2 separate regions of the Homo sapiens genome follow, and region 2 is linked to region 1. Evidence: fine-mapped expression QTL. Tissue or cell type: whole blood. Region 1 holds a variant in brackets; the other region holds the start of a gene. All regions are shown on one strand. Distances are between the middles of the regions. Region 1 has its middle 6.6 kb from the start of TSPAN16. Region 2 holds the start of TSPAN16-AS1 (TSPAN16 antisense RNA 1).

What was found.
Region 2: it holds the start of TSPAN16-AS1, and the variant in region 1 is fine-mapped to the expression of TSPAN16-AS1 in whole blood (TOPMed, PIP 0.99).

Annotation. Positions count from the first base shown.
Region 1 is chr19:11,286,891-11,292,261 of GRCh38, forward strand. No RefSeq gene overlaps it. Among named protein-coding and RNA genes, the nearest start is that of TSPAN16, 6.6 kb to the right of the region's middle. The variant C/T (reference allele first, on the strand shown) is at 2,819.
Region 2 is chr19:11,319,188-11,324,558 of GRCh38, forward strand. It overlaps TSPAN16-AS1 (TSPAN16 antisense RNA 1), which reads right to left and starts at 2,138. Exons shown (of 3, transcript NR_187778.1): 1 at 2,037-2,138. RAB3D (RAB3D, member RAS oncogene family) reads right to left here. Exons shown (of 5, transcript NM_004283.4): 5 at 2,881-5,371. It also overlaps a transcript of TSPAN16 not described here. RefSeq lists an enhancer at 5,061-5,270.

The DNA of each region.
Region 1 (5,371 bases):
CTCAAGCGATTCTTCTGCCTCAGCCTTCTGAGTAGCTGGGATTATAGGCATGTGACACCATGCCCGGCTAATTTTTGTATTTTTAGTAGAGACAGGGTTTTGCCATGTTGGTCAGGCTGGTCTCAAACTCCCGACCTCAGGTGCTCCGCCCGCCTTGGCCTCCCAAAGTGTTGGAATTACAGGCGTCAGCCACCACGCCCAGCCCCCTAAAATTTATTCTTTCACTGTTCTGGATGCCAGAAGTCTGAAATCAAGGTGTCAACAGAGCCGTGCTGCCCCCAAAAGCTCTGGGGAAGGTTCCTTCCTTGCCTCTTCCAACTTCTGGTGGCCCCTGGTGGTCGCTGGATTGTGGCCACGTCACTCCAATCACTGCCTCTTCCATCATCTTGTGGCCTTCTCCCCTCTGTCTGTGTCCAAATGTTCCTCTCCTGTCTCTCTTTCTCTCTCTCATTTTTTTATGAGACAGAGTCTCACTCTATTACCCAGGCTGGAGTGCAATGGTGTAATCTCAGCTCACTGCAACCTCTGCCTCCTGGGTTCAAGTGATTCTCCTGCCTCAGCCTCCCTAGTAGCCTGGAGTACAGGCGTCCACCACCACAACCAGCTAATTTTTCTATTTTTAATAGAGAGAGGGTTTTGCCATGTTAGCCAGGCTGACCTCAAACTCCTTGCCTCAAAATCCACCCACCTCACTCTCCCAAAGCACTGGGTATTACAGGCATGAGCCACCACACCTGGCCTCCTTTTTTTTTTTTTTTGAGATAGAGTCTTGCTCTGTCACCCAGGCTGGAGTGCAGTGGCGCGATCTCGGCTCACTGCAAGTTCTGCCTCCTGGGTTCACGCCATTCTCCTGCCTCAGCTTCCCGAGTAGCTGGGACTACAGGCGCCCGCCACCATGCCTGGCTAATTTTTTTTGTATTTTTAGTAGAGACGGGGTTTCACCGTGTTAGCCAGGATGGTCTCCATCTCCTAATCTTGTGATCCACCCGCCTTGGCCTCCCAAAGTGCTGGAATTACAGGTGTGAGCCACAGAGCCTGGTCTTTTTTTTTTTTTTTTTTTTTTTAACCAACAACCTTATTTATTTATTTTTGAGACAAGGTCTTGCTCTGTTGCCCAGGATGGAATGCAGTGGCACCATCATACCTCACTGCAGCCTCGACTTCCCAGGCTCAAGACATCCTCCCAACTCTGCCTCTAGAGTGGCTAGTACTACAGATACACGCCACCATACCTGGCTAATTTTTATTTTTTTAGAGACAGGGTCTCGATATGTTGCCCGGGCTGGTCTTGAACTCCTGGCCTCAAGCCTCCTGTCTCCTCTGGTCTTGCCCTCCCAAAGTGCTGGGATTACAGGCATGAGCCACCACCCCTAACCCCTCTCCTATGTCTTATAAAGACACCAGATATTGACCAGATATTGGATTTAGGACCTGACCTAAATCTAGGCTGACTTCATCTCAAGATGTTTAACCAATGACATCTGCAAAGACCCTGTTTTCAGATAGGGTCTCATCTGAGGCTCCAGATGGATATGAATTTTGTGGTGACATGACTTAACCCACTGTGGTGCTCACGGTAACCAGAGCTGGACATGAAGTTCTACAGGAACTGCGAGAACATTAGCAGGTACCGGGCCGAGTCATTTCCCTCTATTCCCACCAGGAGGCCTTGTAGTCCTGTTCCTTTTACAACATTTATTTCTTTTCTACTGTGGCAAAATATATATAACTTAAAATTTTGTCATTTTAACCATTTTAAGTGTACAGTTCAGGCCGGGTGTGGTGGCTCACACCTGTAATCCCAGCACTTTAGGAGGCTGAGGTGGGCGGATCACTTGAGGTCGGGAGTTTGAGACCAGCCTGGGCAACATGGTGAAACCCCGTCTCTACTAAAATTACAAAAATTAGCCGGGCATGGTGGCACGCTCCTGTAGTCCCAGGTACTCAGGAGGCTGAGGCAGGAGAGTTGCTCGAACCCAGTAGATGGAGGTTGCAGGGAGCTGAGATCGCAAGATCACGCCACTGCACTCCAGCCTTGGCAACAGAGCAAGACTCTGTCTCAAAAAAAAAAAGAAAAGTACAGTTCAGCAGCATTAAGCACATTCACATCGCTGTGCAGCCATCACCACCATCCGTCTCCAGAACTTTCTCATCTTTCCAAACTGAAACTCTATCCCCATGAAACACTCACTCCCCACGCTCCTCTCCATTCCCTGGTACCCACCATTCTGTTTTCTGTCTTTATGAATCTGATGACTCTAGGGACCTCAAATGAGTGGAATCATGCAATATTTGTCTTTTTTTTTTTTCGAGACAGAGTTCGCTCTGTCGCCCAGGCTGGAGTGCAGTGGCGTGATCTCGGCTCACTGCAAACTCCGCCTCCCGGGTTCACATGATTCTCCTGCCTCAGCCTCCCAAGTAGCCAGGATTACAGGCGCCTGCCACCACATACAGCTAATTTTTGTATTTTTAGTAGAGACGGGGTTTCACCATGTTGGCCAGGCTCCAAACTCCTGACCTCAAGTGATCTGCCAGCCTTGGCCTCCCAAAGTGCTGGGATTATAGGCATGAGCCACCGCGCCTGGCTCCCGTTGTCAATTCTTTTAGTTAAGAATTTGAGCAGGTGTGGTGGCTCATGCCTGTAATCCCAGGATTTTGGGAGGCTGAGGCAGCCAGATCACTTGAGTCCAGGAGTTCAAGACCATTGCTAGAGCCTGTCTCTACCAAAAATGGAAAAAAAAAAAAAAAAGGCAGGTGCGGTAGTGTGTGCCTGTAGTCTCAGCTACTCAGGAGGCTGAGGCGGGAGGATCACTTGAGC[C/T]CTGGAGTTTGAAGCTACAATGAACTATGATCACATCACTGCACTCCAGCCTGAGCAACAAAGTGAGATCCAGTCTGCAAAAAAGCAACAAAGATTTCTGCATTCATTTTCTCAGCTTTTGAGCATCTTTTCCTCTAGTTGGACAATCTTATACTTAATCAGCTACTAATACTTTCAAAGGGCATTTAAGGCCGGGCACGATGGCTCACGGCTGTAATCCCAGCACTTTGGGAGGCCGAGGCAGGTGGATCACCTGAGGTCAGGAGATCGAGACCAGTCTGGCCAACATGGTGAAACCCTGTCTCTACCAAAAATACAAAAATTAGCTGGGCATAGTGGGGCATGCCTGTAGTCCCAGCTACTGGGGAGGCCGAGGCAGGAGAATTGCTTGAACCCAGGAAATGAAGGTTGCAATGAGCTGAGATTGCACCACTGCCCTCGGCCTGGGCAACAGAGTGAGACTTCGTCTAAAAAAAAAACAAAAAAACAAAAACAAAGGGCACTTAAGTTGTTGTTTCCAATCATTCACAAGTCAAGCGAGGCTTAAGAGCAGGCATTAGCAAAACTACATTCTGCCACCCATTTTTGTAAATAACAAAACCATCTCATATTATAAATAACATTTTATTTTGACAGAGTCACACTTGTTCATTTACATATATTTACATATTGTCCATTTACATATTTTCTATGGCTGCAATAGCAGAGTCCCAACAGAGACGGTATGGTCCGCAAAGCTGAAAATATTTACTTTCTGGCTCTTTCCAGAAAAATCTGCCAGCTCTTGGCCTATGTGCATTTGAATAAATCTGTAGTAGGAATTCCTAGAAGGAGAAACATTCCCCACAAGGTTTTAAAAGTCCATTTGCGGTTGTTACAGGTCCGCCTGTAATAAAATCTCCAAAAGCTATTTATGAGGTCTTTTTTTTTTTTTTTTGAGACAGAGTCTCACTGTGTTGCCGAGGCTGGCGTGTGCAGTGGCAAGACCTCGGCTCAACGCAACCTCCGCCTCCCGGGTTCAAGCGATTCTCCTGCCTCAGCCTCCTGAGTAGCTGAGATTACAGGCATGCACCACCATGCCCGGCTAATTTTTGCATTTTTGGTAGAGACGGGGTTTCACCATGTTGGCCAGGCTGGTGTCAAACTCCTGACCTCAAGTGATCCGCCTGCCTTGGCCTCCCAAAGTGCTGAGATTACAAGCGTGAGCCACTGCACCTGGCCAACCTTTTCAATGTGTTTAAGTGAGATACTTGAGGAATATGGGATGGGAACAGTCTTGGCCACCCTGGGACCAGCTGCCCAGACAACAGAGGGAATTAGAACCCGATCCCCCATGCTAACAAGAACAGAAGCCCCCTCGAGATGTGTCACCTGCATGCACTGGTCTGGGGCCACTCGCTGCTTCCTGAACTCTCATCAGGACCCTCCAGTCCTCCTAACCCTTCAAGGTTGATACCCCTGAAACCCTCCCTTCTCATCACTGCCTGGGTATACCTTATATACTAAATATTTTTAATATTATCAAGGATCTTGGCTGGGTGTGGTGGCTCATACCTGTAATCCCAGCGCTTTGAGAGGCTAAGTCAGGAGGATTGCTTGAGCCCAGGAGTTCGAGACCAATCTGGGAAACATAGCGAGACCCCTGTCTCCACAAAAAATAAAAAAATTAGCCGGGCGTGGTGGCACGTGCCATTGGTCCCAGCTACTCTAAAGGCCAAAGCGAGAGGATCGCTTGAGCCCAGGAGGGTGAGGTTGCAGGGAGCTGAGATCACACTACTGTACTTCCAGCCTGGGAGACAAAGCGAGACCCTGTCTCAAAAAACAAACAAACAAACAAAAACCCATCTCCTGGTTCTCCTTAATTTCACTTCCCTCTTTTCCAGCCAGAAGCTAAGGTAGCTGAAGGGGTAGAAATTGCAGATCTTTCTTTATGTAGCAAGAGAGAGGAACTGGGAAAGCAGTGAGTGTCCCTGTAGGACAGGGGTCTTCTTATTTTATTTTATTTTTTTGAGACAGAGTCTCGCTTTGTCGCCCAGGCTGGAGTGCAGTGGTGCGGTCTCGGCTCACTGCAACCTCCATCTCCCCAGCTCAAGCAATTCTTCTGCCTCAGCCTCCTGAGTAGCTGGGATTACAGGTGCCCACCTGTAATTAACCGCATCCAGCTAATTTTGTAGTTTTAGTAGAGACGGGGCTTCCCCATGTTGGCCAAGGCTGGTCTTGAACTCCTGACCTCAGGTGATCCACCCGCCTCGGCCTCCCAAAGTGCTGGGATTACAGGTGTGAACCACTGTGCCTGGCCTGACAGGGGTCTTCTGATCACTCCTCAGTGCCTCCCAACCCACCATACAGAGCACAAAGTGTTAACCCTAAGGCAGAATGTGAACATGGGGAAACAAATGCAATTTTAAAAAACAACCAGCCAAACAAAAAAATCCCTAATGGTGGAAATGCTGTTTGTTTTTTTTTCATTTGGTAGCAATGATTACCATCATGCTCCTCTCCTGCCACAATGACGTCAGCCCCTGATGCTGAAACTTGGTGACACTTCTGTGC
Region 2 (5,371 bases), 32 kb after region 1:
GGCTACAAAGTCAGGGGGGGTTCTCACAAGCCCCCTCCCTTTCAGGTTTGATAATTTGCTAGAATGACTCACGGATCTCAGGCAAGTGTTTTACTTACTACTCCTGATTTATTATAAAGGAGACAACTCAGGCCAGGCGCAGTGGCTTATGCCTGTAATCCCAGCACTCTGGGAGGCCAAGGCGGGCGGATCACGAGGTAAGGAGTCTGAGACCAGCCTGGCCTATATGATGAAACCCCGTCTCTACTAAAAATGCAAAAGTTAGCCGGGCGTGGTGGCACACGCCCTGTAATCCCAGCTACTCCGGAGGCTGAGGCAGAAGAATCGCTTGAACCGGGAGGCGGAGCTTGCAGTGAGCCGAGATCGCGCCACTGCACTCCAGCCTGGGCGACAGAGCGAGACTCTGTCTCAAAACAAACAAAACAAAACAAAACAAAACAAAAAAACAAAAAAAGGAGACAACTCAGGAACAGCCAAATGGAAGTGATAAAGAGGGCAATGTGTGGGGGATGGTGTGCAGCACTTCCACACCCTTTCTTGGGGAGGGGGGCACCACCCTTCCAGCACCTCCATGTGTTCATCAACTCAGAAGCTCTCCAAACCTGTCATTTAGGTTGTATTTTGTTTTGTTTTGTTTTGTTTTTTGAGACGGAGTCTCGCTCTGTCGCCCAGGCTGGAATGCAGTGACGCGATCTTGGCTCACTGCAAGCTCCACCTCCCGGGTTCACGCCATTCTCCTGCCTCAGCCTCCCGCGTAGCTGGGACTACAGGCGCCCGCCACCACGCCCGGCTAATTTTTTTGTTGTATTTTCAGTGGAGACGGGGTCTTACCGTGTTAGCCAGGATGATCTCGATCTCTTGACCTCGTGACCTGCCCGCCTCCGCCTCCCAAGGTGCTGGGATTACAGGCCTGAGCCACTACGCCCGGCCAGGACTTTTTTTTTTTTTTTTGAGACGGAGTTTCTCTCTTGTCATCCAGGCTGGAGTGCAATGGCACGATCTCGGCACACCCCAACTTCTGCCCCACTTGTTCAAGCGATTCTCCCGCCTCAGCCTCCCGAGTAGCTGGGATTACAGGCATGTGCCACCAGGCCCAGCTATTTGTTATATTTTTAGTAGAGATGGGGTTTTGTCATGTTGGCCAGGCTGATCTCAAACTCCTGACCTCAAGTGATCCTCCTGCCTCAGCCTCCCAAAGTGCTGGAATGACAGGCATGAGCCACCACACCTGGCCAATCCTAGCACTTTGGGAGGCCAAGGCGGGAGCATGGCTGGAAGCTGGGAGTTCAAGACCAGCCTGGGCAACATAGCAAGATCCCATCTCTCAATCACTCAATCAGCTGGATGTGGTGGTGCTTGCTTGTAGTTCCAGAAACTCAGGAGGCTGAAGTGGGAGGATCCTTTGAGTCCAGGAGTTCGAGGCTGCAGTGAGCCATGATTGTGCCACTGCACTCCAGCCAGGGCCATACGGCAAGACCTTGTCTCCAAAAAAAAAAAAAAGAAAAGAAAAGAAAAAGAAAAAAGAAATGCTGGGGAGGGAGATTGCAGTACTAAATCAGGGGAGGGGGCAGTGAGAAAGTGAGATTTGCACAGTAGCCCAAAAGAGGAAGTTCAGTTAGGGGAGCTTTGTTGTATTAGTCTGTTTTCCTACTGCTGGAAAGAACTGCCCAAGACTGGGTAATTTATAAAGGAAAGAGGTTTGCCCGTGTACGGTGGTTCACGCCTGTAATCCCAGCATTTTGGGAGGCCAAGGTGGGCAGATCATGAGGTCAGGCGTTCGAGACCAGCCTGGCCAACGTGGTGAAACCCCGTCTCTACTAAAAACACAAAAATTAGCCAGGCGTAGTGGAGTGTGCCTGTAATCCCAGCTACTCGGGAGGCTGAGGCAGGAGAATTGCTTGAACCTGGGAGGCGGAGGTTGCAGTGAGCCAAGATGGCACCACTGCACTCCAGCTGGGTGGCAGAGTAGGACTGAGTCTCAAAAAAAAAAAAACAAAAAAATACCCAAAAAAACATAAGAGGTTTAATTTACTCACAGTTCAACATGGCTGGGGAGGCCTCAGGAAATTTACAATTATAACAGAAGGCAAAGGGGAAGCCAGATACCTTCTTCACAAGGTGGCAGGAAGGAGAAGAGCCGAGAGAAGGCGGAAGAATCCCTTATAAAACCATCAGATCTCGTGAGAACTCACTTGCTATCAGGAGAACAGCATGGGGGAACCGCCCCCAGGATTCAATGACCTCCACCTGGTCTCTCCCTTGACACGTGAGGATTATGGGGATTACAATTCCAGATGAGATTTGGGTGGGGACACAAAGCCAAACCATATCAACTGTGACTACCTTGGGTAAGGGCCATCCAGGCAGAGGCAGGGGGAACATTCTGGGCAAAGGCCTTGGGGCAGGGGCCTGGTATGTTCAGATAGCAGCAAGTAGGCCAGAGTGGCCGGAGGGGAGCAAGTGTGGGGAGGCCAGTGGAGAGATGAGGGTAGGGAAGGGATGGATCAGATCATGCAGGGCCCCGGGGGCCACAGGAAGGACCTCAGCATTTACTGCAAGTAAGGTGGGAGCCATCGAATGTTCTAAGCAGAGGAGGAATGCGCTGTGACTCAGGTGTTCACAGGTGCCCTCTTGCTGCTGGGGAGAGAACTGAGCTTTTTACTAGAAGTAGTTGAGGGAAATAGTGTCCTCCCTACCTTCCATATAACAGAGCTTTCCAAGGTCAAGGTGGTGGCCATGGGACCCAGTGGGAGGCAGCCCGAGGCCCGGTGAGGTTTCTGCTGTGTCTTGAAGAGCCCTTGACTGATATCTGCTTAGTTGCAAATCAAACCCCCTTTCCCAGAAACGCACTTCACTAATGGAAATAAAAGCACAACTATATTTGGGCACGACGGATTTAAGTTTTTCTTGTTGAGAAGAGTACATCTTTCCAAACTGGACATCAAGGAATTGCTACACAGAAGAACCACATCCAGGATAGAAAGGACCAGCCAGAGCTCGTTCAGTAGTGTATTTCAGAATCATCAGGGAGGAGCCGGTAGCAGAATTATCCCGTTAACACTGAGACCACATTTCACCTGTTACTTATTTTTCTAAATGGAGTAGGAGAGAAAGATGCTAAAATGTGATCTTGGGAGGAGTCCCCCAGTCCCCCGAAAAAGAAGAAGAAAAAAAAAAAGCAGAACTCCAAACCCCTGTGGTCATGGCAATTTCCCATCAAAACTGCCCATGTAAAATAAACACAAGCTGCTAAAAGTGAATGTTAAGAAGGAAGGCACTGGTTAGTGGGTGGTCCTGACCAATCCCCTGGAGCTGGAGAGGGGTTTTCCCACGGCCTTTGGTTTAATGTGTCTGTAAACTCAACAAACCTCCGTTTCCCTGAGGTAATCTGCAAAAACATCAGTTTTCAGTCCCCAGAGACCATTTCCAATTAAACCTCACCCCCCAAATCATTCAATGTAACATTTGCCTTATTTTTAGAAGAAACAAATGTTCCCATATTATTCCCAGTTTTTGAGAGAATCCTGAGGCAGCTCTCTCGGCTGCTACTTGAAGTTGAATTCTTGAAAAATCTTATGTAAACAGAAAGCTTAGGCCAGGTCAGGAGTAAAATGCAGTCAAAGCTGTTTCTCATCACACAGGTGATTACAGGTTAGCTCTGCCCTATTCAAGACAATCTGATCCATTCCTTTTTTTGACAGCAGTTTAGAGACAATTGGCCAACAAAACCAGCCTGGCCAACAAGGTGAAACCGTCGCTACTAAAAATGCAAAACTTAGATGGGCGTGGTGGCAGGTGCCTGTAGTCCCAGCTACTTAGGAGGCTGAGACAGGAGAATCGCTTGAACCCGGGAGGTGGAGGTTGCAGTGAGCTGAGATCATGCTACTGCACTGCGGCCTGGGCGACGAGCGACTCTCTGTCTTAAAAAAAAAAAAAACAAAAAAACCTCAGCAGGCCATACTGCATCTTGAGAAGTCTTTTTGAAGCTACTTTAGTTTGACTTTAGTGTTAAAGTAGCTAAAAATTTTTGACTCCCGCCCACATATTCAGATACCCTCACTTTGTGCATAGGATTTGTCCATTACACCTCAGTCATCTAATTTGTTGGTATAAAAGATACCCTCGGCTGGGCGTGATGGCTCACGCCTGTAATCCCAGCACTTTGGGAGGCCGAAGCAAGTGGATCACTTGAAGTCAGTTTGAGACAAGCCTCACCAACATGGTGAAACCCCTTCTCTACTAAAAATACAAAATTTAGCCGGGTGTGGTGGCAGGTGCCTGTAATGCCAGCTACTCGGGAGGCTGAGGCAGGAGAATCGCTTGAACCCTGGAGGTGGAGGTTGCAGTAAGCTGAGATTGTGCCACCGCACTCCAGCCTGGGCAATAGAGCGAGACTCTGTATCAAAAAAACAAATGAAAAAAAGATACCCCACTCCAAAGTTCTAAGGGTAGCCTCTGGTATGAAGAAACCAGGGCTCCCTAGAAATAAATCTAAACTTGAACCAGGCTTTCCCCCTCACACATACCCCAGGGAAGAGGCTGAGCTCATGAAAGCTGCAGGAAGTCATTTTGGCTTCAGGGGCTGGGAGAGCAGACACAACCTCTGAAACAGAGTCAGGGACGTGGGAACATAAAACATCCACTTAGCCATCCTAACAGTGCTGGTCCTGTGAAGGGGTGTTGGTTGGTGTTTGGGAGCAAAGAAAAGGTGCTGCGCCCCTAGAGTTTGGAATCTGATGGGCAGAAAGTGCCTCTAAACCGGAGGTCAAGATGTACATCTTCAAACTGCACACGTAACCTCTGAGCAGAAGCCCCTGGAGGTGGGGACCCCAGCTTCAGAGACTCCCCGGCACTGATCACAGTCCATCCCCCCCATTCACATAAGGTCCTGCCACTCTCAGGCTGTCTACAAAGTACAAGCAGTGACAGCAAGTTACTCAATCCTACCTCCTCACCCCTTCCGCCCAACCCCCAGCATCCCTTAGAAGTGACCCCTAGTTTGAGGCTGTGGTGAGCTATGATTGCACCACTGCACTCCAGCCTGGGTGACAGAGCCAGACCATCTCAAAAAGAAAAAAAAAAAAAAAGAAGTGACTCCTCCATTAGCAAAAATTGTCACATCCCTGGGCCCTGCCGATGACAAGGATTGGGAAATGGACATTGGGTCTTGAAGGGCCCCCCTCAAGTCGGAGCCCAGGTGCTTACATCAGAAAGTCGCCGACAACTGCCTGCGGTGGCTGGGAACGTTGCTTCATTTCCTTTTCTAGCAGGATGCATGATTGGGCAAGAACTTGCTTAAAACACAACCAGCTAAACAGCTAAACAGGGCCTGGGAGGGAGGCCCCAGCCCCAGGCTCCTGGCTCTGAGGTT